7 linked regions of the Homo sapiens genome follow. The protein of the gene in region 1 interacts with the protein of each later gene in a pairwise test. Each region holds a gene or a part of one and is shown on either strand. Other genes may lie near its edges. The genes, in order: ZNF410, NDUFAB1, COL10A1, VBP1, DPEP2NB, PDE4DIP and IQUB.

What was found.
Region 2: the proteins of ZNF410 (region 1) and NDUFAB1 interact in binary tests that used the Homo sapiens proteins (3 or more experiments, as listed by UniProt).
Region 3: the proteins of ZNF410 (region 1) and COL10A1 interact in binary tests that used the Homo sapiens proteins (3 or more experiments, as listed by UniProt).
Region 4: the proteins of ZNF410 (region 1) and VBP1 interact in binary tests that used the Homo sapiens proteins (3 or more experiments, as listed by UniProt).
Region 5: the proteins of ZNF410 (region 1) and DPEP2NB interact in binary tests that used the Homo sapiens proteins (3 or more experiments, as listed by UniProt).
Region 6: the proteins of ZNF410 (region 1) and PDE4DIP interact in binary tests that used the Homo sapiens proteins (3 or more experiments, as listed by UniProt).
Region 7: the proteins of ZNF410 (region 1) and IQUB interact in binary tests that used the Homo sapiens proteins (3 or more experiments, as listed by UniProt).

Annotation. Positions count from the first base shown.
Region 1 is NC_000014.9:73,889,859-73,893,358, reverse strand, and holds part of ZNF410 (zinc finger protein 410), read right to left. Parts: intron 1,333-3,500; 5' UTR 1,184-1,332; coding exon 1,151-1,183; intron 1-1,150. UniProt on the Homo sapiens protein: Transcription factor that binds to the sequence motif 5'-CATCCCATAATA-3', and is specifically required to silence expression of fetal hemoglobin in adult erythroid cells.
Region 2 is NC_000016.10:23,589,817-23,593,316, forward strand, and holds part of NDUFAB1 (acyl carrier protein, mitochondrial precursor), read right to left. Parts: intron 1,335-3,500; coding exon of another isoform or gene 1,277-1,334; intron 1-1,276. UniProt on the Homo sapiens protein: Carrier of the growing fatty acid chain in fatty acid biosynthesis.
Region 3 is NC_000006.12:116,123,333-116,127,264, forward strand, and holds the start of COL10A1 (collagen alpha-1(X) chain precursor), read right to left. Parts: upstream 2,801-3,932; 5' UTR 2,721-2,800; intron 2,176-2,720; 5' UTR 2,161-2,175; coding exon 2,007-2,160; intron 1-2,006.
Region 4 is NC_000023.11:155,222,960-155,226,459, reverse strand, and holds part of VBP1 (prefoldin subunit 3), read right to left. Parts: intron 1-3,500. UniProt on the Homo sapiens protein: Binds specifically to cytosolic chaperonin (c-CPN) and transfers target proteins to it. Binds to nascent polypeptide chain and promotes folding in an environment in which there are many competing pathways for nonnative proteins.
Region 5 is NC_000016.10:68,013,112-68,017,410, forward strand, and holds DPEP2NB (DPEP2 neighbor protein), read right to left. Parts: upstream 2,801-4,299; 5' UTR 2,660-2,800; coding exon 2,593-2,659; intron 1,302-2,592; coding exon 997-1,301; 3' UTR 325-996; downstream 1-324.
Region 6 is NC_000001.11:148,966,428-148,969,927, forward strand, and holds part of PDE4DIP (myomegalin), read left to right. Parts: intron 1-115; coding exon 116-229; intron 230-411; coding exon 412-549; intron 550-1,298; coding exon 1,299-1,478; intron 1,479-2,408; coding exon 2,409-2,603; intron 2,604-3,500. UniProt on the Homo sapiens protein: Functions as an anchor sequestering components of the cAMP-dependent pathway to Golgi and/or centrosomes.
Region 7 is NC_000007.14:123,524,596-123,528,095, forward strand, and holds part of IQUB (IQ motif and ubiquitin-like domain-containing protein), read right to left. Parts: intron 1-3,500. UniProt on the Homo sapiens protein: Adapter protein that anchors the radial spoke 1 (RS1) complex to the A microtubule of outer doublet microtubules in axonemes. The triple radial spokes (RS1, RS2 and RS3) are required to modulate beating of the sperm flagellum.

The sequences.
Region 1 (3,500 bases):
GTAAGTATACTCTACCATGTTCGCATAATAATGATATCAACTACCATCATATTTCTCAGAATGTATCTCTATCGCTAAGTGACACTTCACTGTAATTAAGTTAACCTCTGCCACCTTCTGTCAAACAGAGAAATGATAAAAATAATTACATTTTAAAATAATGGCTTAAAAAAAATCAACTGCATCATATTGATTACATTTTACAAAACACTTTTCTGTGTACTGGCTCATTTAATTATCGCATTAACCCAGTAAGATTTAAGATGTATTTTTTTTTGAGACAGAGTCTTGCTCTGTTGCCCAGGCTGGAGTGCAGTGGCATGATCTTGGCTCACTGCAAGCTCCACCTCCTGGGTTCACGCCATTCTCCTGCCTCAGCCTCCCAAGTAGCTGGGACTACAGGTGCCCGCCACCACGCCCAGCTAATTTTTTTTGTATTTTTAGTAGAGACAGGGTTTCACCATGTTAGGCAGGATGGTCTTGAACTCCTGACCTCATGATCCACCTGCCTCGGCCTCCCAAAGTGCTGGGATTACAGGCGTGAGCCACCGCACCCAAACTTAAGGCATATTTTACAGCTGAGGAATAAAATTGAAGACATTAAGTGACTTGTCTAAGGTCACAAGACTAGTTAGGAGCAATGCCAATCCTCAAATTTAAGTAATCTGATTCCAAATTCAGTGACCACTCTGCAACACAGATGTGCTAAATTTAAAGTAAGAAAAGTGAACAACAAAAAATGTTTAAATCCCCAATCACATTTAGAAAGAAAATACTTACAGATATATATAAAATAAACAAAAGAATTTGTAGTAGTAAATATTTATATACTTATACACCTATACATCACATGTATCTCATATTTATGTATATATTTATACATAAACATATATTTTTATTTATAAGATTTTATTACATTATCTAAATGTATGATTTCACATATACTGAAAAACAGATATAAAAACAATCACAAAAAATATAATTTTTAAATCTTTGAAAAAATAGTAACAATCAAAACCATATAGCTTAAAAAACCTAAAATATTTATTATCTGGCCCATTAAAGAAAAAGTTTGCTGACCCCCTAAACTGAAGATAAACTTTGAAATATAGCCCACCAAAAGAAAAGGAAACAAGCTGACTGGGCTCACCTCTGGTTTGGATTCTAACTCATCTGATAACATTGATTCAGCTTCCAAAACCTGTAGCTATTCAGGGGACAAGTTCAAATTTAATTCAGAGCCAATGATACCTTCCTGTTATGTTCATATTCCTCTAGGAAATACTATGCTCTTCCCGTAAGATGTTGTACTAGGTGGGTAATCAATGTAACCTAGAATAGGGGTAAAAAAGAGAGAGGGGGCATTAAGAGCAGTGGGAAAACACAGGTACATAAAGACACTTCTTTACATATACAAAAAAAATCACAACAAGCAAGCAAATAAAGAATTCAAACCGAAACACTTCTTTTAAAATACAACAAGCTCAACAGGCATCAAAACCCATAAAAATACTACGCTTTGATGCAGTATTTCAACCTCTAATAATCTAAAAAACTATCTTAAATATGGATAGAGCTATGTCCAAAGATGTCCGTCTTATCCTATGTAATAAACAACTGGAAGCAATGTATACACACACACACACCCCCAATTAGGGAATGGTTGATTAAATATGGCACTGTCACTTCAAAATATGCTGTGAAGGGTTGGGTGTGGTGGCTTACAACTGTAATCCCAGCACTTTGATAGGCTGAAGCAGGTGGATCACTTGAGGTCAATAGTTCGAGACCAGCCTGGCCAACATAGTGAAACCCCCTCTCTACTAAAAATACAAAAATTAGCTGAGCATGGTCGCAGGCACCTGTAATCCCAGCTACTCGGGAGACTGAGGCAGGAGAATCCCTTGAACCCAGGAGGTGGAGGTTGCAGTGAGCCAAGGTCAGACCACTGCACTCCAGCCTGGGCGACAGAGCAAGACTCTATCTCAAAAAACAAACCAACAAACAAATGCTATGAAGACAATGCAACAACAAGTGACTGACATGTTAAATTATAAAAATAAAATACAAAATTATATACTTGCTATTATTAAAACTAGTTATAATAAGCATCAGAAAAAGTAAAAGGAGATTCATACAGCTATGACCGTAGCTATACCGTGTGGTAGGCTGGTGTGACTTAATTTTCTTTTCTCAATTTTCCAATATTTCTAAAAGGCAACCATATTGTTTTGATAATTTTTAAAATTACATTTAAAAAAAAAAAAGTTAAAATTTGAAGAGCGTTTCCCAAAGGTAGTGCTCTCAGGACCCTGATGCGGCTGTTCTCTCTCTTTTATTTATTTATTTAGAGATGGAGTTTTGCTCTTGTTGCCCAGGCTGGAGCACAATGGCACGATCTCAGCTCACCACAACCTCTGCCTCCCAGGTTCAAGCAATTCTGCCTCAGACTCCTGGAGTAGCTGGGATTACAGGCATGAGACACCACACCTGGCTAATTTTGTATTTTTAGTAGAGACGGTTTCTCCATGTTGGTCAGGCTGGTCTCGAACTCCCAACTTCAGGTGATCCGCCTGCCGTGGCCTCCCAAAGTGCTGAGATTACAGGTGTGAGCCACTGCGCCCAGCCACTCCCTATAACTTAAATTCTTACTTTCTTATAGCTTAGTTTCTTTTCAGGATTTTGGAATGTGAGTCCATTTTATTTTGTACAATTGTTACTAAAATTGGGAGCACTATTACAAATAATCATACAGTGTAAAATGTATCCAGGATGGGTATATTTTCAATCAATGGGTACTTTAAAGTTTCCAATTAATACCAGGTAGTGTGGAAAGGTAGAACAAGACAGACTTTACAAAGAGGGCACTTAGGCTGGGCACGGTGGCTCACGCCTGTAAACCCAGCACTTTGGGAGGCCGAGGCGGGTGGGTCACCTGAGGTCAGGAGTTCAAGACCAGCCTGGCCAATATGGCGAAACCCCGTCTCTACTAAAAATACAAAAATTAGCCGGGCATGTGGCGGGTGCCTGTAATCCCAGCTACTCGGGAGGCTGTGGCAGGAGAATCGCTTGAACCCGAGAGATGGAGGTTGCAGTGAGCTGAGACTGCGTCACTGTACTCCAGCCTGGGCGACAGAGCAAGACTCCATCTCAAAAAAAAAAAAAAGTAACTGAATAAATGTTTTTTTGTCCTGTTGGTTTCTCCCTCTCTCTTTCTAAGCTACCTGAAATCCTCATTTTTCATTGTAAAAAAGTAACCATTTAGGCCGGGAGCAGTGGCTCACGCCTGTAATCCCAGCATTTTGGGAGGCCGAGGCAGGCGGAACACAAGGTCAGGAGATTGAGACCATCCTGGCCAACATGGTGCAACTCCGTCTCAACTAAAATACAAAAAATTAGCTAGGTGTGGTGGCATGTGCCTGCAGACCCAGCTACTCAGGAGGCTGAGGTAGGGGAATCGCTTGGACCTAGGAGATGGAGATTGCAGTGAGCCGAGATCG
Region 2 (3,500 bases), on another chromosome or scaffold:
TCCCAGCTAATCAGGAGGCTGAAGTGGGAGGATCACTTGAACCTAGGAGGCAGAGGTTGCAGTGAACTGAGATCATGGCTCTACACTCCAGCCTGGGCGGCAGGGTGAGACTCTGTCTCCAAAAAGAAAAAAAAAAAAAAAAAAAAAAAGAAATGGTACGATGCCAGGTGTGGTGGCTCACGCCTGTAATCCCAACACTTTGGGAGGCCAAAGTGGAAGGATCGCTTGAGCCCAGGAGTTCCAGACCAACCTGGGCAACAAAGCAAGACCCCTGGTGAGGGTATATTCTATGTTCGTACACAACTACCCATGAGGCCAACTAGGTTGTCAGCATTGTCCTCAGCAGCTCCAGCAAGTACCTACAAGGGCCAGGTGGGCACCATGTGATTAAATTAAACGAGTCTCTGACTGGAGGCCACATGCCAATCTAGAGTGGGTGCTGCATCAGGATCAGCGTGAGGCAGTAAGTTAGTGGGCAAGAGCTCAGACGCTGAAACTAGACCACCTATGCCTGCACCATGGTGCTGGCTCTCACTAGTTGTTTGGCCTTGGGTGGGTTACTTAACCTTCTACATCTCAGTTTCCTCATCTGTAAAATGGGGATAAACAACAGTACCACACTCACAGGACTGTTGTGAAGCATCAGTGAGATGAAGTAAAGGCTTGGACATTGGCTGGCACTTAACACAGTAAGTGCTATTTAGGGTTATTTAGTAGGATCCTGAGAACAATGACCAGCAGCAGCTAGTTTGATACCTTGGCTGTAGCGTAGCCCCAAAATACTTGATCCTACTACCCTCTCATGCTCCTGCCTCTGGTCTCTTTTTTTTTTTTTTTTCAGACAGAGTCTCACTGTGTTGCCCAGGCTGGAGTGCAGTGTTGTGACCTTGGCTCACCACAACTTCTGCCTCCCAGGTTCAAGTGATTCTTATGCCTCTGCCTCCCAAGTAGCTGGGATTACAGGCGTGCACCACCATGCCTGGCTAATTTCTGTATTTTTAGTGGAGATGAGGTTTTACCATGTTGGCCAGGCTGGTCCTGAACTCCTGGTCTCAAGTGATCCACTCACCTCAGCCTCTCAAAGTGCTGGGATTACATGCATAAGCCACCACGTCCCGGCCTCCATTAATTTCTTATCAGCTCAGGCTATGATATTGCACTTTACACACATCATCTTTCTTCAGCTCTCCAGTATTCTGGTGAGATCCATGATACTATCACCCTCCTTTTTACAGATGAGAAACTGAGGCAAGGGAAGGTTAGGTATCCTCCTCACCCCATGTCCTTCCAGCATGGCCTCCTGGAAGGTCTTGCTGCTCCTTCTAACTGGATCTCTGTTGATTGGGAAAAAATAAAAGGGATACAAAATGGACAAGCACCTCCCCAACAGCCAACATGTGATGTTTCTGGTGTTAGTTGTTCTTCCCCAAGATCTACACTTAACAAGTATATGGGAAATAAACCACCTCTCCCAGACATCAGAGAAGGTACTGTTTGCAGGTAAAGAGTGATGACCCTCTGGGCTAGTAATTCAAACAGATGAGGTTCCATCAGAATCCCGGTACTCCACTGGGGCTCACTTCTGCCTGAGGCAAACTCAGAGGAGGCTAAGGAGAGGGCTTTAAAGGCCGTCTCTACAAACTGCCGACTGGTCCACTCTACACAGGCAGCCCAGACCTCTCAAACTCAACAGTTTGGAAATGAACTCCTGACCTGTCTCCAAAACTCCTGCTTACAGACCTCTGTTCCTTCTCCGCCACCTGGGGCTTATTCCTTCAATAAGCCCTGTTTCATGTTCACTCCCTATGACCTTTGCAGAGAATACCCACAATTCCTCGCTGCAGCATACAGCTCCCTTCATGATATGCTCACTCTCTTCCCCCCAACAATGTTCCCTTCCAGACACCCTAAGAGTCAACCACAAGGAGGTAAGTGCCAGGCTCTTCCTGGCCTCTGCACAGGCCTTCAAGATCACGTTCACTGAGAGATTGGTCAAGTATCTCTTTTTGCTTTTGCACTACACACACCTGTTTCACAATGCCTTGCCTTTATTTACACGACTGTCTCAGAAGCCTGGGAACTTTACCTGTGTGCCAAGAACTGTGCAATGGGCTGGAAATGCAAAGATGAATAAGACACAACCTTCCCCCAAAAGAAGCTTACACTCTAATGGAAAAGACCAATCCACAGATCATTTTAGTTGAAATAAAAATATGGCAAGCACCATGACAGAAGTATCTGTAGGCTGATGCAATAACAAAAGTTGTCACTCAGTCCTTGAGTGGCCGGAAAGGAGGATGCCAGACTTGGATTTGGTGAGGAAAAGAGCTGAGACTGATAATTCAAGGAGAGGGAAGAACAGGTCAAGAAAACGAAATGAGGTCAGGCGTGGTAGCGCAGGCCAGTTATCCCAGCTAGTCAAGGGACTGAGGCAGAAGGATTGCTTGAGCCCAGGAGTTTGAAGCTGCACTGATATATGATCATGCCACTGCACTCCAGCCTAAGTGACAGAGACCTTGTCTGGAAAAAAAAAAAAAAAAAAAGTCATGAAAGTGCAGTGCCTGTGTCTATGTGAGAAGACATCAGCTCATGTTGGGAGATGGTACACAGATGACAGGCTTGGAGGCTAAGAGGGAGGGCCCAGGTCTGCAGAGCCTTAAGGGCCATGGGAAGGGACTGGGACTTTGTCTGGTCCTGGTCCCAGTCCTGGAATAGCTAGCTTTTTTTTGTACAAGTGCTGTCTTCATCTGCGTACCATGCCCCATAGAACTGCTGGAAATTATCTTTGTGCTCCATCTGCTAGACAGTGTAGATTCGGGGCCTACCTGGATCAAGTATAAGACTTCCAGGCTGCATTTTAGGCCATTGCCCTTGGTTTTTGTTTTTTTGTTTTTTCCTTACCTTCTATTTTATATCATCTGGTATTTTTATACCCAGGAAAACTGCCTTAGCTCCTTTTGGGAAAAAGGGTGTAAATGAGTGACTAGTTGCTCTGAAGTTGGCATAGTGGATGGATTTGAGGAGAGGAAATTTCACAGCAGGGAATAGGTAGCATGAGCAATGGTCCAAATGAGATGAACAAGGACTGGAGGCGGAGGTCTGGGATATACAGCAATAACAGAAACCAGGAGTGAAGAGTCCAGGGAGCATGTGTGGTAAGAGAACTCGGGAGCCCACCAACATTTAAGGGTTAGGCACACCAGGTGTGATGGCTCATGCCTGTAATCCCAGCACTTGGGAGGCTGAGGCAGGAGGATTGCTTGAGCCCAAGAGTTCACAACTAGCCTAGGCAACATAAGGAGATTCCGTCTCTAAAAAGAAGACAGACATCAAAAAATTAGGGGTGGTGGCTCATGCCTGTAGTCCCAGCTACTCAGGAAGCTGAGGCAGGAGGACCATTTGAGTCCAGGAGGTCAAGGCTGCAGTGAGCCACGATCATGCCACTGCACTCCAGCCTGAAAGGCAAAGTGTCCCAACAAGGTAGGAGGACAAACCAACCA
Region 3 (3,932 bases), on another chromosome or scaffold:
CTTCTATTGAATGCTTGGGGGACAGCCCCTGTTTGTAGGTTGTCATCTGAAAAAATTTTCTTCATTCAAGATTAGGGTGGCACAATCCTCAAGGTAAAACGACTACTTCCTTCTATTAAGTTTTTTAAATGCCACAAACTGAAATCGTGATTGGTTGTGTCAGAATGTGGCACGTGCATCTGCCCACCAGCTGTGGAATCCTCTGCAGCATAATTTAGTATGTTTTGACAGAACTCTTTTTTAACCTGTGTTGGATGGATATGCCTAGGAATTATGTAATAACTCTTTGAATTCCTGTTTCAACTTAATGTCTTACTTGTATAGACTGTGGGCTTTTGTGTTTGTTATGGTGCATTAATGTCTGCCAATGGATGATAGTGTAGTTGAGTGTCTATCTAAAAAGAGACTAAGGTGGATTTAGTAGTTTAAATACAGCTTCTGAACTTTTCATTTGTTAAGATATTTTCATTTGTTCTGCAAAAGTAGCCAAGATAATGGTGTATATTAAGAGAAGATCAAAGTATTTTTAACCTTCTAAAATAGTGCATTTTCTTTTTAATTCAAGACTTTGTTATGCTCTTATTAAGGTGTTAAAAAGTCTGATTTTTGTGATCATGGAAACTATTGAATCCAGTGCTGTTTGTCATAGCATTTCAAATTGTGTTTGTTGCTTCAAGTAAAGCGGAAGGTTGCTTTGTCTTTTATTTTTTTCTTTACTAGCCTTTAAATTTTAAAATTTTTATTTATATTTTGAGACATTCAAAAGTATCTGTTGTATACCTGTGCATTTATTTTCAAATATTAAGTTTCCTTTTGTGAAATATTTTAAATTCCATCTTTCTTCTTAAAAAGACAATTCTATAAGTTTCATTGCTCAAAATGGTTGTTCCCAAAAGCATAATATTTAAACTTTATAACAAATATCCTTAGCTTTATTTACAGTATAAAATATATAATTAAAAAATTATGGAAAGGGAGTTTGAAGCCTACAGTCAGTTTATATTATTCTGTAGATATTTTATAGGCGGTCGTGTCAGTTGCTGTTAAATAAAATTAGTGAATATGAGGCCTAGAAGTTGCCCTCCTTTGAGAACCTTAGTGCTTTACATATATTATCTCAGTAATCTTCAAAGAGTAACCAAGAAAACTGGACAGGTAAGCAACAGATTCAAGAAGAAAGTTAACTTATTGAAGGCTATATTAGTAGCTAAAAGTAGTAGAAATAAAACTAGGAGTAACAGAAGTAGTAGTAGAAGTAATAGCAACACTTAAAGCACTTTACAGGTATTAATTCATTTAAACTTCGCAGCAGCCCTTGAGATAGCTGCTCCTTATTTTACAAATGAGGAAACTAAGGCATGGGAGGACAAGTAACTTACCTCAGGTCACACAGCTTATGCATTACAGTTAAGTCTCTGCATTTTACCGCTAAACTATATTCAAAATGTATAAGTAATTATGAGAATTGCAGTTTCATTTGCCTGCTTGGCAATTCTCATAATTACATTTGTTCATTGTTGGGGGGGAGGCCATCAGATTTTTTTGATAAGACTCGGTTTTATATCTGTTTGTGGGCTAGTTGAATTAGTTTTAAAAGTAAATGTTTAATATTTAGCTAAATAAACCAGCTACCTTCTTTATACAATTGGCAGTTATTTTTAGCTTAAAATTTTTAAACTTGATTAGTTTTGATTAGATCAAGATTTCTGGATTACATGCAGTTATTTGTGCAAAAGCAGCATCTGAGAAAAAAATTTGTACACACAAAAGTTCTGATTTTTTGCAGGTATATCTTTCAACTATATTTTCAAGTATATCCTTTCTACTACACTTATTGGATATTCTTGTTCTACTTTTTTCACAGATCACTTTGTTGTAATAATTTGGGCTAATTCAGAAGTTGGAAAGTAACACCAAAGTTAAATGCATTTTGTTAAAGAGATTATTAAGATTATAGAAAGCAACAAGCAACTTGTTAATAGAACAAAATATACAATTCAATTTACCTTTACTCTTTATGGTGTAGGGAATGAAGAACTGTGTCTTGGTGTTGGGTAGTGGGCCTTTTATGCCTGTGGGCATTTGGTATCGTTCAGCGTAAAACACTCCATGAACCAAGTTCAAGGATACTAGCAGCAAAAAGGGTATTTGTGGCAGCATATTCTCAGATGGATTCTGAAAAACAGAAAAGAATAACTTTATACAGCATTGTTATTAACCTATTTTTTTATTCTCATGTTTCACAGATGAGTTCTTTATACAGTTATCTACTTTTTTAACCTATCCTATATATTTTTAATATGTGCCATAAATAAATGAGAGATCATTTTTTAGTTATGTGAATATATGTCTTAGTTATTTTTGGAAGCTATACTCAGGTAATCAAGTGAAAATAAAATGATTTACCTAAAGGAAAAGAAACAGAAATTAGGATTGGATGTCTGTATTAAATAATCTAGGATCTTTGACATAGCCTGAAATATCTAATAGTTTCAAAATACACTGAAATTCGGATTAGGGCAAATTTTTACAATATGGTTTTATTGGGACTATCATCCACAGACTGATGCAAAAAGAACTTTTGGAGTGCATTTTAGTAGAAACCCATTTTTTAAATCACTTTAATACTTCTAATACTTGAGAAAACTCAAGTATTTAAATCTTTAAAGTTTCTTTCCAAGCAAGTTAACATGGAAGTCCACCAGTAAGCGTACGCTTACCTGCGTGCTGGGAGTTCCTGGAGATGGTGCCTTGGCAGCTTTCTGAAGCTTCCTCTGCCCAGATGAGCAGTGCAGAAGGTGCCTCTCAAGAGCTGTTCAGTGGTATTTATACTGTTTTTCCCTTACTACATGAGGTTACCCTGAGCTTAAGCTCCTCCCCTCAAAGTTGGTAAGCACTAATTATGGTGGAAAGTTCTATTGGGTAGGCACACAAGATCGGGCTGGGCTCTCCTTTTCCTTGTTTTCTTATTTAAAAATAAACCCATTGTCTTAAATATATATTAATAGTTTTAACCAAGGACCGTCTTTGTCTGTGATTCTATTTTATTAATTAATACTCTAGTGTTCAGGCTGGTTCACGGTGGAATGATGATACCCCCTTTTTATTTTTGAAAAGCACATTCTTATGTTAATTGGTTGATATTATATAATATGTGGTAGTACATAAAAGCGGATAAAATTCCTTGAAGGGGGTACTGGATTTAGACCATCATCTAAATTATTGAGTTATTACATAAAGTTATCAATGTGTCTATTAATATTCATAAATTTTTGTGAAAATAGCTGACCCCAATTCTTAATTACTTTTAGGCTTTTAGGATTTAGATCCCTTATTCACAACACTACGCTATATTCAGTAAATGACTTCAGATTTTCTTGCTTAAATTTGGGTTTACTTTAGAGTTGCAGTAGAGTTTGCAAAAACCCCTTAATTTGATAATCTCATATTATGTTAATTTACATAAGATTGCTGTGTTTATTTCAGGAGAAAAAAATTTTCAAACTTTGCTTTCAGCTTAAAAAAAATATTATTGGCTTAACTTGCAGTTAGGAATCATCCCAATTAGAAACACTTTCCCTCAAAGGTGGAAGTAAACACTATTGTTGTCAATTTTGGTAGTTAGACTCTGTTTAACAATATTAGGAAGCCTTTAAAATCAGTTTTTAGGATCCTAAAAAATCTAATAAAGGTGGGAAGTTGAGAGTCCAAATTTTTCATCTTATTTAATTTCATCGTTTTGAATCAAAATCAAATTGACTATGCAGGTGAACTGGTTGAGGAGGACAATTCCATACACAGGCATAGACACATCATTTTTCTACCTCCACAGAATTAAAGTAGTATGGATTCAGGACTAATCAATAATTGAAATAATTGAAAGTTTGACCAGTGAATGAACTAAAGATTTGTCCTTTTTCTTTTCCCTTTCT
Region 4 (3,500 bases), on another chromosome or scaffold:
AATTATAAATGGATCACTGATTTAAACACAAGAAATTTAAAAAAACAATGATGGACATGATACAACTGATCCGACTTAATGGATAAGTTATATGATAGCTACTAGCAAAATGCTAGTAAGTGACTCCCAAATGCAATCAACCTCACTGACAAGAACATAAGAGAAAAACAGTATGCTAAAAACATTCAGTCAATTAAAGAGAGAAAACAATGATACCGTTTTTGTCACTGGGGTTTAGCTCTTTATGGTAATTAGATGCATGTGTTTTGCATGGAGATATATGCAAAACAGTTCTAGGGTCTCTGTCAAATGTAATTTCTAGCAAAACAGACTAAGGATATAAAAACGAAGCTCTGGTTCTTTCGAGGTAAATTTACTAAATATTATTAGAGACCAAAATGTAAACAAAATATAAACACAACAATGAAAATGAACTTATTGCGTCACATAAAAGAAGTCACTCCATGTGTGCAGCAGGTTGGCAGGGCAAATTTACTACACCCTGTGCTACTGACCTGGCAAGAAATGTGTTAAATGAGCCTGCTGCTTAAGAAAAAAACATAGTGTCATCATTTGATAATACAGTCCAGTGAATAATCTAGAAACACCTAGCATTCATTTTTTCACTACAATTCAATCTGGATGCCATAGATTGCTCAAGTTTGCTTATTTTTGCATGATATGTTCATATAGGTAAACAGAAAGATGTTATACATTTGTAAAATATGTGATACACACACAACATAAGGAGTATGTTCAGATCAAGATTTTTTGTCATGTAAATGACTTTTAAGATGCATTCTGTATATATAAATATTATATGTAATATGCTATAAAGCATATTAATGAATCAATCAGATGCAGCCCTAGCTAACTTAGGAACCAGACCACCAATGACACAGCACATGCCCAAGCAATACACTCCTCCCTACCCTGCTTCACCTGAAGAGAAAGTAGCTTGGCTGGGCACAGTGATTCACGCCTGTAATCCCAGCACTTTGGGAGGCCGAAGCGGGTGGATCACCTGAGGCCAGGAGTTCGAGACCGGCCTGGCCAGCATGGTGAAACTCAGTCTCTACTAAAAAAAAATACAAAAAAATTAGCTGGGCGTGGTGGTGCATGCTTGTAATCCCAGCTACTTGGGAAGTTGAGGCGGGAGGATCCCTTGAATCCAGGAGGTGGAGGTTGCAGTGAGCCGAGGTAGCGCCACTGCTACCCACCAGGAGTGACTTAAATTACCCCCACCTCCACGTACATTACTGGCCAAAGTAGCTGATATCCCTGAGGGAATCTAAGCTGACAGGGAAAAGACATTATAATTTGATCATTATAATAAATAAAGACAATAAATTCAACAACCTCTACCATATGAAACAAAATTAACAAATACCAAAAGATAAAACTATACATTAAATACTTAAAGATACCACAAAGAGAAAAGAAAGGATATTGGTAATATGAAGAGGAACCAACCAGAACTACCAGCTATAAAAATCTTAACAGCTGAAACAAAGAACTCATGGCTATCCATCTAATTGCCAAAAGATAAATGACAAAGACAGAAAAAAGGGAAATAATATAAATAAATGGAAGGCAGAATTAGAAGTGTCAACATCTGTAAACAGGAATCCCAGAAAGAAAGAGGAAAAAAAATTAACAGACGATAGAAAAAGTGATAATCACAAAATTTCCAATTAAAGAAAGATAAAAGATCTCAGATTCAAGTGTCGAAAAAGAGATTAACACATGAAATACTAAGGAACTTTTACACAGCTTGAAGGGTAAAGTTAAATGACAGGCTGCAAGATTTACAACACATACAAAGAAAAAGGCTAGCCTCACCCTCACCCTCGCCCTCGCCCTCTTTGCATGGTCTCCCTCTGATGCCGAGCCGAGGCTGGACTGTACTGCCGCCATCTCGACTCACTGCAACCTCCCTGACTGATTCTCCTGCCTCAGCCTGCCGAGTGCCTGGGATTGCAGGCACGCGCCACCACGCCTGACTGGTTTTCGTATTTTTTTGGTGGAGACAGGGTTTCGCTGTGTTGGCCGGGCTGGTCTCCAGCTCCTGACCGCGAGTGATCTGCCAGCCTCGGCCTCCCGAGGTGCCGGGATTGCAGACGGAGTCTCGCTCACTCAGTGCTCAATGGTGCCCAGGCTGGAGTGCAGTGGCGTGATCTCGGCTCGCTACAACCTCCACCTCCCAGCCGCCTGCCTTGGCCTCCCAAAGTGCCGAGATTGCAGCCTCTGCCCGGCCGCCACCCCATCTGGGAAGTGAGGAGCGTCTCTGCCTGGCCGCCCATCGTCTGGGATGTGAGGAGCCCCTCTGCCCGGCCGCCCACTCTGGGAAGTGAGGAGCGCCTCTTCCAGGCCGTCATCCCGTCTAGGAAGTGAGGAGCGTCTCTGCCCGGCCGCCCATCCTCTGAGATGTGGGGAGCGCCTCTGCCCAGCCACCCCGTCTGAGATGTGAAGAGCACCTCTGCCCCGCCGCCACCCCGTCTGGGAGGTGAGGAGCGTCTCTGACCAGCCACCCCGTCTGAGAGGTGAGGAGCCCCTCCGCCCGGCAGCCGCCCCATCTGAGAAGTGAGGAGCCCCTCCGCCTGGCAGCCGCCCCGTCCGGCAGGTGGGGGGCAGCCCCCGCCCGGCCAGCCGCCCCGTCCGGGAGGTGGGGGGGTGCCTCTGCCCGGCCGCCCCGTCTGGGAAGTGAGGAGCCCCTCTGCCCGGCCGCCACCCCGTCTGGGAGGTGTACCCAACAGCTCGTTGAGAACGGGCCATGATGACGATGGAGGTTTTGTCGAATAGAGAAGGGGGAAATGTGGGGAAAGGAAGGAGAGATCAGATTGTTGCTGTGTCTGTGTGGAAAGAGGTGGACATGGGAGACTCCATTTTGTTCTGTACTAGGAAAAATTCTTCTGCCTTGGGATGCTGTTAATCTATAACCTTACCCCCAACCCCGTGCTCTCTGAAACATGTGCTGTGTCCACTCAGGGTTAAATGGATTAAGGGCGGTGCAAGATGTGCTTTGTTAAACACATGCTTGAAGGCAGCATGCTCGTTAAGAGTCATCACCACTCCCTAATCTCAAGTACCCAGGGACACAAACACTGCGGAAGGCGGCAGGGCCCTCTGCCTAGGAAAACCAGAGACCTTTGTTCACATGTTTACCTGCTGACCTTCCCTCCACTATTGTCCTATGACCCTGCCAAATCCCCCTCTCCGAGAAACACCCAAGAATGATCAATACTAAAAAAATTAAAAAAAGAAAGAAATAGGCTGAACTCACTTATGAACAGAAATTCAAAAATCCTAAATAAAATAATAGCAAATTGAAAAAAAAAAAAAACAAAAAGGCTAGCATGTAAACTACATAGAGCCATCTGCTGCAAAACAACTAGATCATGACACAAAAATAGTTTTGTTGCATAGCTGACATCATAGGAGTGAGAGAAATTCCAGAAAAATAAAAAGAGAAAAGTAGCCCTCCAACTACTTGGGAGGCT
Region 5 (4,299 bases), on another chromosome or scaffold:
GAAGAAAGAGGCTGGGTATGGTGGCTCATGCCTATAATCCCAGAACTTTGGGAGGCCAACGCGGGCAGATCTTGAGGTCAGGAGATCAAGACCATCCTGGCCAACATGGTGAAACCCCGTCTCTGCTAAAAATACAAAAATTGGCTGGGTGTGGTGGCGGGCGCCTGTAGTCCCAGCTACCAGGGAGGCTGAGGCAGGAGAATGGCGTGAACCCAGGAGGTGGAGCTTGCAGGGAGCCGAGATAGTGCCACTGCACGCCAGCCTGGGTGACAGAGTGAGACTCCGTCAAAAAAGAAAAAAAAAAAAGATGATCAAGTCAAATACTGTTATGGAAAAATAATTTTTTTAATTTTTTTTTAAATTGAGCAGTAGGGACCTCACTGGGGCCATAATGGGCAGGAAATAAAGTAACATGTGAGCTTCAGGGGGATGTTGCTCAACTTCCTCCTTATTGTTCTTGCTGTAGGTGGCAGGTCTCCCCAGGTCTCTTTCTTCTACCTCCTGAGATGCCAAGCAGGAGGCTTTCTCCTGCTGTGACTAGCCATGGGCTGCTGCTTCCAGTTTCAGCAAGTCCTGGCCCTCCTGGTTTGTGCTGGTAGTTGCTGGCAGTGACTCAAAGCAAAGACCCATCTGGTAGATCAAGCCCTTACTGGGCTATGCTGCACTCCCTCTCTGCACTTGACTCCTCGGCTAGCAGAGTGCAGACTATTTCTATCTTCTGCCCAAAAAGGGACTCTGGAGAGATGAGTAGAGGAACATCAGGTTTTCTTCCAGGCCGTCTTCAGCCTTGGGATGTTCAAAGCAACCTCTCATTTTAAACCACAGTTTCTGAGGCTCCTTGGCCATGGGTAGTTAGCATGGAAGGGGGCTTCTGGATGAGGAAGGCATAGGCAGAATGACTCAGGCTCTATCTGCAGTGGTGGGCAGGGGAGGTCACCGCAGAAGAGGCATTAGCTGTCTTAGACAGCTAAACATTTGTCCTTTCTCCCAAATGGCTCAGCCAGCAAGCTTCTGTGGGGTCAGTCTCCTGCCACGATGCTCCAAGCGCCGAATTTTGGGGCTAGAGCAACCCAGGTCTTTATCTGACTCTATCGTAGCTTGACGTCTCTTGGGAGCACGCCTGGGGGCTGGCTTCTCTGCTTCAGCCTTTGTTGGGGTGGCCAAAGGAGCATCCCCATGGACCCGGTAGCCACCAACCAGGCAGTACGTCTCCCCATGCCAGCCTACCTGAGTTTCTCCACACCCTCGGTAGAGAACATGGTAGTGCCCAGGTGTGGGAGGAGAAGTGGCAGGCACTGCAGCTGGAAAGAAAACCAGAATTAGTCACTTTTACCTTATACATTGTGCTGTTACAGCCTACCCTCTCTCGCGACTCTTCCTAAGAAGTCCTTTCATCTTCTTCGCATCCCAGACACAGCCTTGGCCTATCACCTCTATGTGTCCCTGAGACAGGATGCTGGCTGTGAAAGCAGTTATGTGGAGCCTGTGTCAGCAGCAGGAGACCAGGAGATCCTCCTCATCCCTTCCATGACCAAAAATACATTTCTTAAGGTCTGTCACATCTCAGGCTTTAATGGAAATTATTTTCAAGTTTTGTAAAAAATGATCTACTATCAGCCAGGTGGGGTGGTTCACGCTTATAATCTCAGCACTTTGGGAAACTGAGGAGGGAGGATCACTTGAGCCCAGGAGTACCAGCCTGGCCAACATGGTGAAACCCCATCTCTACTAAAAATACAAAAAATTAGTCAGGCATGGTGGCACGCACCTGTAGTCCCAGCTGCTTGGGAGGCTGAGGCAGGAGAATCGCTTGAACCTGGGAGGCGGAGGTTGCAGTGAGCCAAGATCGCACCACTGCATTCCAGCCTGGGTGACAGAGCGAGACACTGTCTCAAAAAAGAAAAAGAAAAAGAAAAAAAGGATCTAATATTGTGCCACTGCACTCCAGCCTGGGTGACAGAGCGAGACTAAAATAAAAAGATCTAATACAAATTGGTGGGCCAGGCACAGTGCCTCACGCCCGTAATCCTAGCACTTTGGGAGGCTGAGGTGGGCCGATCGCTTGAGCTCAGGAGTTCAAGACCAGCCTAGGCAACATGGCGAAACCCTGTCACTACTAAAAAGAGAAAAAATTAGCTGGGTGTGGTGGCGCGTGCCTGTAGTCCCAGCTACTAGGGAGACGAGTTGGGAGAATCCCCTGAGCCCAGGAAGTTGAGGTTTCAGTGAGCTGTGATTATGCCAGTGTGCTCCAACCTGGACGACAGAGAACCTGTCTCAAAAAAAAAAAAAAAAAAAAAAAAAATTCAGACCAGCCCCAGCAACATAGCAAGACCCCATCTCAATTAAAAAAAAAAAAAAAAAAAAAAGATGAGAACCTTTCTGAGCACCTGCTCAGATGACATTTCACTTGCCCTTAGCAGGTGAACTTGCCCTGAGCAGGAACACTGTGGGTCCCTGAGTGGCCACGCCCTCGATATTACTTATGGCTGGGAAAGCTCGAGGTGTGGTGGGCCAGCCCAGAAGGAATGTGTCAGCCAGGTGAAGCTGTGGGTACAGCAACGCCTCCTGTATAGATGCCCCCTGTATGCCTACCTGCTGCGCTGCCCTCCCAGGGGACAGAGGACATGTTAGAGACAATATAGAGGATCCGGTCAGTCATTCTCTCTCAGCCAACCAAACAGATTGGTATCTTACAGAGAAATGGTAGGGAGGCTTCTCTAGGACGCAGGTGTGTAGTCACGCTGCCATGGAAACTTTGGAAGCTTGTGAGGTCATCACTACCCTGTGAAGTCACCTAAGGAATCTGTGACTTAAGGGGCAGGCTTCAGGCCTTCAGGGTTTTGTGGAGGAGAGCAGGGCAGAGATAGAGAGGAATCCTGCCTGGGCCCTCCCATCCAGCCCTCCCTACAAATGCCTAGTAGCCACTCTGTGGGGCACATCTGTCGGCTGGTACAAGCCCCAGTGACCACAGGAGGGCAAGAGAAACCTAAATTCTGATATGAGCTGGAGAGGCAAGATTAATCTAAGAGATAGATAGGTAGCCACGCACTGGTGCTAAGCAATCAACAGCAGGAGAGGCAGAGATTGGGATGGACAAAGGGATCATGGAAGGCTCCTTCGAGCTGGACTTGAAGGACTGGTGAGATCTGGACACACGCAAAGAGTAACTGCCCAACGTGTTCCCCTTGCCACTGCCTAGACAAAGCTGATTTATCAAGACAGGGAAATTGCAATAAAGAGTAATTCACGCAGAGCTAGCTGTGCGGGAGACTGGAGTTTTATTACTCAAATCAGTCTCCCTAAGCATTCAGGGATCAGAGTTTTTAAAGATAATTTGGTGGGTGGTGGGCAGTGAGTCCGGAAAGCTGATTGGTTGGGTCAGAGATGAAATCATAGGGAGTCAGCTTGGGCGTGGCAGCTCGTGCTTGTAATCCCAGCACTCTGGGAGGCTGACCAGCCTGGCCAACATGGTGAAACCCCTAAAAAAACAAAAATTAGGCTGGACGCGGTGGCTCATGCCTGTAATCCCAGCACTTTCGGAGGCCAAGGTGGGCGGATCACGAGGTCAAGAGATCGAGACCATCCTGGCCAATATGGTGAAACCCTGTCTCTACTAAAAATACAATTTAGCTGGGTGTGGTGGCATGTGCCTGTAGTCCCAGCTACTTGGGAGGCTGAGGCAGAAGAATCCTGAATCTGGGAGGTGTGGGTTGCAGTGAGCTGAGATCCAGCCATTGCATTCCAGCCTAGTGACAGAGCGAGACTCTGTCTCAAAAACAACAACAAAAACAAAAAGTTAGCCGGGCGTGGTGGCGCTGTCTGTAACCCCAGCTAGCTACCTGGGAGGCTGAAGCACTGAAACCCAGGAGGCAGAGATTGCAGTGAGCCAAGATCATGCCACTGCACTCCAGCCTAGGCGACAGAGTGAGACTCCATCTCAAAGGAAAAAAAAAAGAAATCTTAGGTAGTCGAAAGTATCCTCTTGCCGAGTCAGTTCCTGGGTGGGGGAGCCACAAGATTAATCTGGGTGGTGTCAGCTGATCCATCAAGTGCAAGGTCTTTTTTATTTTATTTATGTTTTTTGAGACAGAGTCTCACTCTGTTGCCCAGGCTGGAGTACAGTGGTGCAATGATCTTGACTCACCGCAACCTCCCCTTCAAGGGATTCTCGTGTCTCAGCCTCCTGAGAAGCTGGGACTACAGGCACCTGCCACCACGCCCAGCTAATTTTTGTATTTTTAGTAGAGACAGGGTTTTGCCATGTTGGCCAGTCTGCTCTCAAACTCCCCCGTCCTCAAG
Region 6 (3,500 bases), on another chromosome or scaffold:
CTTTTGAGGAGAGTGATCACATCTTGTTTTTTTTTTATCCTGAATAACTAGCAAATTACTTGGTAATTTAGTTAATATTGGATAAAAGAATAAAAGAAACTATTTTTGGTCTCAGGAATTTCGGGAGCTCCTACAGTATCGAGATAACTCAGACAAAACCCTTGAAGCAAATGAAATGTTGCTTGAGAAACTTCGCCAGCGAATACATGATAAAGCTGTTGCTCTGGAGGTATGTATCATCATTTCGCCCACTATGCTATGGATTATTCTATCTACATAGGTATTATAGAAATTTGTGTTTGCTTAAATTTGCTGCTTTGGGATTTGGTTTTCTATTCTGCCATCTTGTTGAATAAGAGTGATCAGGATAGTAAATCTTACAGAGCTTTAGGAGTCTTCCTTTCCTTGCAGCGGGCTATAGATGAAAAATTCTCTGCTCTAGAAGAGAAAGAAAAAGAACTGCGCCAGCTTCGTCTTGCTGTGAGAGAGCGAGATCATGACTTAGAGAGACTGCGCGATGTCCTCTCCTCCAATGAAGCTACTATGCAAGTAAGAGCAAAACCTATCTCTGACTTGGTGTTCCTCTCCCACTTGTATCCTGAGCCTGAAGCATGACCCCCTTCCATCATTTTCTGAAAACCAGGGATTTTGCTTTATAAGGGGGAAGAAAACCAAAAAGAGCAGTTACTAGTTCCATCATTGTCAATTAGCAAGTGAGAGATTTTAGCGCTTCTACTTTTCTTTTGTAATATGAACTTTGTGAGGAGAGCCAGTAAATATTGATTTCTGTTTACATAGTTCTGATTTATTTCCAATTCTTGTTCATACATAAGTATACATACACACACGCTCTTCTCTCTCTCTCTTACTTTTACTGAAGCATTACCAGGGTGCAATTATTAAATTGTGTCTTCTACATTAATATTATCTACATGTCCATGAATTGCCATAATTAGAACACTTGTTTATCTATATTTACTGTGGACTTTTTTGCATATTTATTTTAGAGCTTATGTATCTATCTGCCACTTTTTCGAGAAATCCTTTATAGCATAGTGCACTTCCTCCAAAATACTTCCTTTTATCATATATTCTATATTTAATCTCTCCACAAACTAGATAAAAGTTTCTAAAAACCAAAAAAATAGATTAGTATGGCATTGTTAGATCAATGTTCTCATCTTGCAAATAAAAAAAAATTGATGGGAGATTATTTAAAAGTGGATCTAATTTCTTGTTTATCCTGAGGAGTATGGGGTAATCATTTTGACTGATTATTGCTCTCTTTATGGCTGTAGAGTATGGAGAGTCTCCTGAGGGCCAAAGGCCTGGAAGTGGAACAGTTATCTACTACCTGTCAAAACCTCCAGTGGCTGAAAGAAGAAATGGAAACCAAATTTAGCCGTTGGCAGAAGGAACAAGAGAGTATCATTCAGCAGTTACAGACGTCTCTTCATGATAGGAACAAAGAAGTGGAGGCAAGACTTCAGTTAACTTTAAGGCAGTTGGTTCAGTGATTATGTAATCTCAGCCTTGGATTAGGACTCTTCAGATTGGGAGGACTGTGACCCAAGTCTTTAATTTCATTCTGTGCCTGGGCAAGTCATTGACTTTCACTGGGATTTTTTTTTTCCCCACGTCTAGAAACTTAAGTTGGCAATTAACTTTCTCAAAGAACTTATGTGAGAATTAATGAGACCCAAAAATTGCATCTTTAACATGATAGCTAACCTTTATTAGTTATAGTCTTCATGCTGGGTCAGGTACTGTTTTAAGATCCTAATGGATATTAACTCATTGGATCCTCACAAGTCCATGAGGTACTTTCTATTATTCCTTTTTATAGAGGAGGAAACAGACTTCTGAAGCTAAGTAACTTGTCCAAGCTAACATAGCTAATAAGTAGCAGATCCAGTATCAACCTAGGCAGTATGGCTCCATTCCTCCACCATGTGCCATCAGTTAGTACAGAAATAGAAACCATCGCTATGATAGCAAATATAGTGTTTAGTATTCCTTTCAGCTTATCGTTTTATGCTTCCCCCTGTTAAGTTACACTGGGGAGAAAACAAATAAATGAACTGAGTGTCCATTTATCCTCATCTAACATTAATTGTTACATGCCCTGAACAAATAGGAAAAAGACTTATTTCAGAAAACAATATGTATGTAAGTGGCCACCAGAGATAGTTTTCTGTATGGTTTGTATTCATTCCTGGGACATGTATTTAGAGACTTCTGTGTAGCAGGCCTGTGCTAGATCTGGTAAAACAAAAATGAGTAAAACATGATACTTATTCTCAAGAATCTCACACCTCCTTCTTCTATGATAGATTCTTATAAGCCCTTTGATATTTAGCAGAGGCATTTCTTTCCTCCAGAAGCTTACAGTGTCCTTTCTGCATTAGGATCTTAGTGCAACACTGCTCTGCAAACTTGGACCAGGGCAGAGTGAGATAGCAGAGGAGCTGTGCCAGCGTCTACAGCGAAAGGAAAGGATGCTGCAGGACCTTCTAAGTGATCGAAATAAACAAGTGCTGGAACATGAAATGGAGATTCAAGGCCTGCTTCAGTCTGTGAGCACCAGGGAGCAGGAAAGCCAAGTAAGGATTAATGCACAGATCAGACAAGTGTCATGTAGTGCATTTATAGTCTGCAAATAGGAAGCATTTGCAGACTATAGATGTGTGTATATTTATATATTTTACCGTCAACTCTGTTAGTTTCTTTCCTTCTATTTATTACCTAAACCACAGTTTTATTTATTTACTTACTTATTTAGAGATGGGGGTTTCGCTGTGTTGCACAGGCTGGTCTCAAACTCCTGGGCTCAAGCAATCATCCTGCCTTGGCTTCCCAAAGTGCTGGGACTATACGTGTGAGCTGCTGCGCCTGGCCTTAGACCACAGTTTTACATTAATCATCAAAGTATGACACATTTCTTGAAAACCTTGCATTTGGAAGGGTGCCTAAACAATACATGTATCCATTAACTTCATTACATACATTTTCTTTTCCTTAATAATCTGATAATTTTGAGAGAAAGGAGTAGGGGTTGTGAGTGTTTCGATTTTGATTCTAAATTGTTAAGACTTGAGTGATATTTTGCATTTCCAGTCAAGGTATGGGAAAACTTACACTCAACATGTTTACTCTTAGTTTTTGTAAAATCTGAGTTAAGAGGGAAAAAAGATCGCATTTTTCAGAGGTCATGGTGAGAATAAACAATCTCATAATAGTACAGGGTATATTAATTTCACAATATTTAAGAAGTAAATTCTTTTTTTTTTTTTTTTTTGAGATGGCATCTCCCTCTGTCACCCAGCTGGAGTGCGATGGCGCAATCTTGGCTCACTGCAACCTCTGCCTCCTGGGTTCAAGCAATTCTTCTGCTTCAGCCTCCCAAGTAGCTGGGATTACAGGCATGCACCACCATGCCCGCTAAGTTTTGTATTTTTAGTAGAGATGGGGTTTCACCATGTTGGCCAGGCTGGCTTACG
Region 7 (3,500 bases), on another chromosome or scaffold:
TTGGGCTGAGACAATGGGGTTTTCTAGATATACAATCATGTCGTCTGCAAACAGGGACAATTTGACTTCCTCTTTTCCTAATTGAATAGCCTTTATTTCCTTCTCCTGCCTAATTGCCCTGGCCAGAACTTCCAACACTATGTTGAATAGGAGTGGTGAGAGAGGGCATCCCTGTCTTGTGCCAGTTTTCAAAGGGAATGCTTCCAGTTTTGGCCCATTCAGTATGATATTGGCTGTGGGTTTGTCATAGATAGCTCTTATTATTTTCAGATACGTCCCATCAATACCTAATTTATTGAGAGTTTTTAGCATGAAGTGTTGTTGAATTTTGTCAAAGGCCTTTTCTGCATCTATTGAGATAATCATGTGGTTTTTGTCTTTGGTTCTGTTTATATGCTGGATTACATTTATTGATTTGCGTATATTGAACCAGGCTTGTATCCCAGGGATGAAGCCCACTTGATCATGTTGGATAAGCTTTTTCATGTGCTGCTGGATTCGGTTTGCCAGTATTTTATTGAAGATTTTTGCATCAATGTTCATCAAGGATATTGGTCTAAAATTCTCTTTTTTGGTTGTGTCTCTGCCCAGCTTTGGTATCAGGATGATGCTGGCCTCATAAAATGAGTTAGGGAGGATTCCCTCTTTTTCTATTGATCGGAATAGTTTCAGAAGGAATGGTACCATTTCCTCCTTGTACCTCTGGTAGAATTCGGCTGTGAATCCATCTGGTCCTGGACTCTTTTTGGTTGGTAAGCTATTGATTATTGCCACAATTTCAGCTCCTGTTATTGGTCTATTCAGAGGTTCAACTTCTTCCTGGTTTAGTCTTGGGAGAGTGTATGTGTCCAGGAATTTATCCATTTCTTCTAGATTTTCTAGTTTATTTGCGTAGAGGTGTTTGTAGTATTCTCTGATGGTAGTTTGTATTTCTGTGGGATAGGTGGTGATATCCCCTTTATCATTTTTTATTGCGTCTATTTGATTCTTCTCTCTTTTTTTCTTTATTCGTCTTGCTAGCGGTCTATCAATTTTGTTCATCCTTTCAAAAAACCAGCTCCTGGATTCATTAATTTTTTGAAGGGTTTTTTGTGTCTCTGTTTCCTTCATTTCTGCTCTGATTTTAGTTATTTCTTGCCTTCTGCTAGCTTTTGAAAGTGTTTGCTCTTGCTTTTCTAGTTCTTTTAATTGTGATGTTAGGATGTCAATTTTGGATCTTTCCTGCTTTCTCTTGTGGGCATTTAGTGCTATAAATTTCCCTCTACACACTGCTTTGAATGCATCCCAGAGATGCTGGTATGTTGTGTCTTTGTTCTCGTTGGTTTCAAAGAACATCTTTATTTCTGCCTTCATTTTGTTATGTACCCAGTAGTCATTCAGGAGCATGTTGTTCAGTTTCCATGTAGTTAAGCGGTTTTGAGTGAGATTCTTAATCCTGAGTTCTAGTTTGATTGCACTGTGGTCTGAGAGATAGTTTGTTATAATTTCTGTTCTTTTACATTTGCTGAGGAGAGCTTTACTTCCAAGTATGTGGTCAATTTTGGAATAGGTGTGGTGTGGTGCTGAAAAAAATGTATATTCTGTTGATTTGGGGTGTAGAGTTCTGTAGATGTCTATTAAGTCCACTTGGTGCAGAGCTGAGTTCAATTCCTGGGTATCTTTGTTGACTTTCTGTCTCGTTGATCTGTCTAATGTTGACAGTGGAGTGTTAAAGTCTCCCATTATTAATGTGTGGGAGTCTAAGTCTCTTTGTAGGTCACTCAGGACTTGCTTTATGAATCTGGGTGCTCCTGTATTGGGTGCATATATATTTAGGTTAGCTCTTCTTGTTGAATTGATCCCTTTACCATTAAGTAATGGCCTTCTTTGTATCTTTTGATCTTTGTTGGTTTAAGGTCTGTTTTATCAGAGACTAGGATTGCAACCCCTGCCTTTTTTTGTTTTCCATTTGCTTGGTAGATCTTCCTCCATCCTTTTATTTTGAGCCTATGTGTGTCTCTGCACGTGAGATGGGTTTCCTGAATACAGCACACTGATGGGTCTTGACTCTTTATCCAATTTGCCAGTCTGTGTCTTTTAATTGGAGCATTTAGTCCATTTACATTTAAAGTTAATATTGTTATGTGTGAATTTGATCCTGTCATTATGATGTTAGCTGGTTATTTTGCTCATTAGTTGATGCAGTTTCTTCCTAGTCTCGATGGTCTTTACATTTTGGCGTGATTTTGCAGCGGCTGGTACCAGTTGTTCCTTTCCACGTTTAGCGCTTCTTCAGGCGCTCTTTTAGGGCAGGCCTGGTGGTGACAAAATCTCTCAGCATTTGCTTGTCTGTAAAGTATTTTATTTCTCCTTCACTTATGAAGCTTAGTTTGGCTGGATATGAAATTCTGGGTTGAAAATTCTTTTCTTTAAGAATGTTGAATATTGGCCTCCACTTTCTTCTGGCTTGTAGCCTTCATTTCATTCATTTCATCTTCCATCGCTGATACCCTTCCTTCCAGTTGATCACATCGGCTCCTGAGGCTTCTGCATTCTTCACGTAGTTCTCGAGCCTTGGTTTTCAGCTCCATCAGCTCCTTTAAGCACTTTTCTTTATTGGTTATTGTAGTTATACATTCTTCCAAATTTTTTTCAAAGTTTTCAACTTCTTTGCCTTTGGTTTGAATTTCCTCCTGTAGCTCGGAGTAATTTGATCGTCTGAAGCCTTCTTCTCTCAGCTCGTCAAAGTCATTCTCCATCCAGCTTTGTTCTGTTGCTGGTGAGGAACTGCGTTCCTCTGGAGGAGGAGAGGCACTCTGCTTTTTAGAGTTTCCAGTTTTTCTGCTCTGTTTTTTCCCCATCTTTGTGGTTTTATCTACTTTTGGTCTTTGATGATGGTGATGTACAGATGGGTTTTTGGTGTGGATGTCCTTTCTGTTTGTTAGTTTTCCTTCAAACAGACAGGACCCTCGGCTGCAGGTCTGTTGGAGCACCCGGCCGTGTGAGGTGTCAGTCTGCCCCTGCTGGGGGGTGCCTCCCAGTTAGGCTGCTCGGGGGTCAGGGGCCAGGGACCCACTTGAGGAGGCAGTCTGCCCGTTCTCAGATCTCCAGCTGCGTGCTGGGAGAACCACTGCTCTCTTCAAAGCTGTCAGACAGGGACATTTAAGTCTGCAGAGTTTACTGCTGTCTTTTTGTTTGTCTGTGCCCTGCCCCCAGAGGTGGAGCCTACAGAGGCAGGCAGGCCTCCTTGAGCTGTGGTGGGCTCCACCCAGTTGGAGCTTCCCAGCTGCTTTGTTTACCTAAGCAAGCCTGAGCAATGGCGGGCGCCCCTCCCCCAGCCTCGCTGCCGCCTTGCAGTTTGATCTCAGACTGCTGTGCTAGCAATTAGCGAGACTCCGTGGGCGTAGGACCCTCCGAGCCGGGTGGGGGATATAATCTCCTGGTCCGCCGTTTTTTAAGCCTGTCGGAAAAGCGCAGTATTCGGGTGGGAGTGACCCGATTTTCCAGGTGCCGTCTGTCAC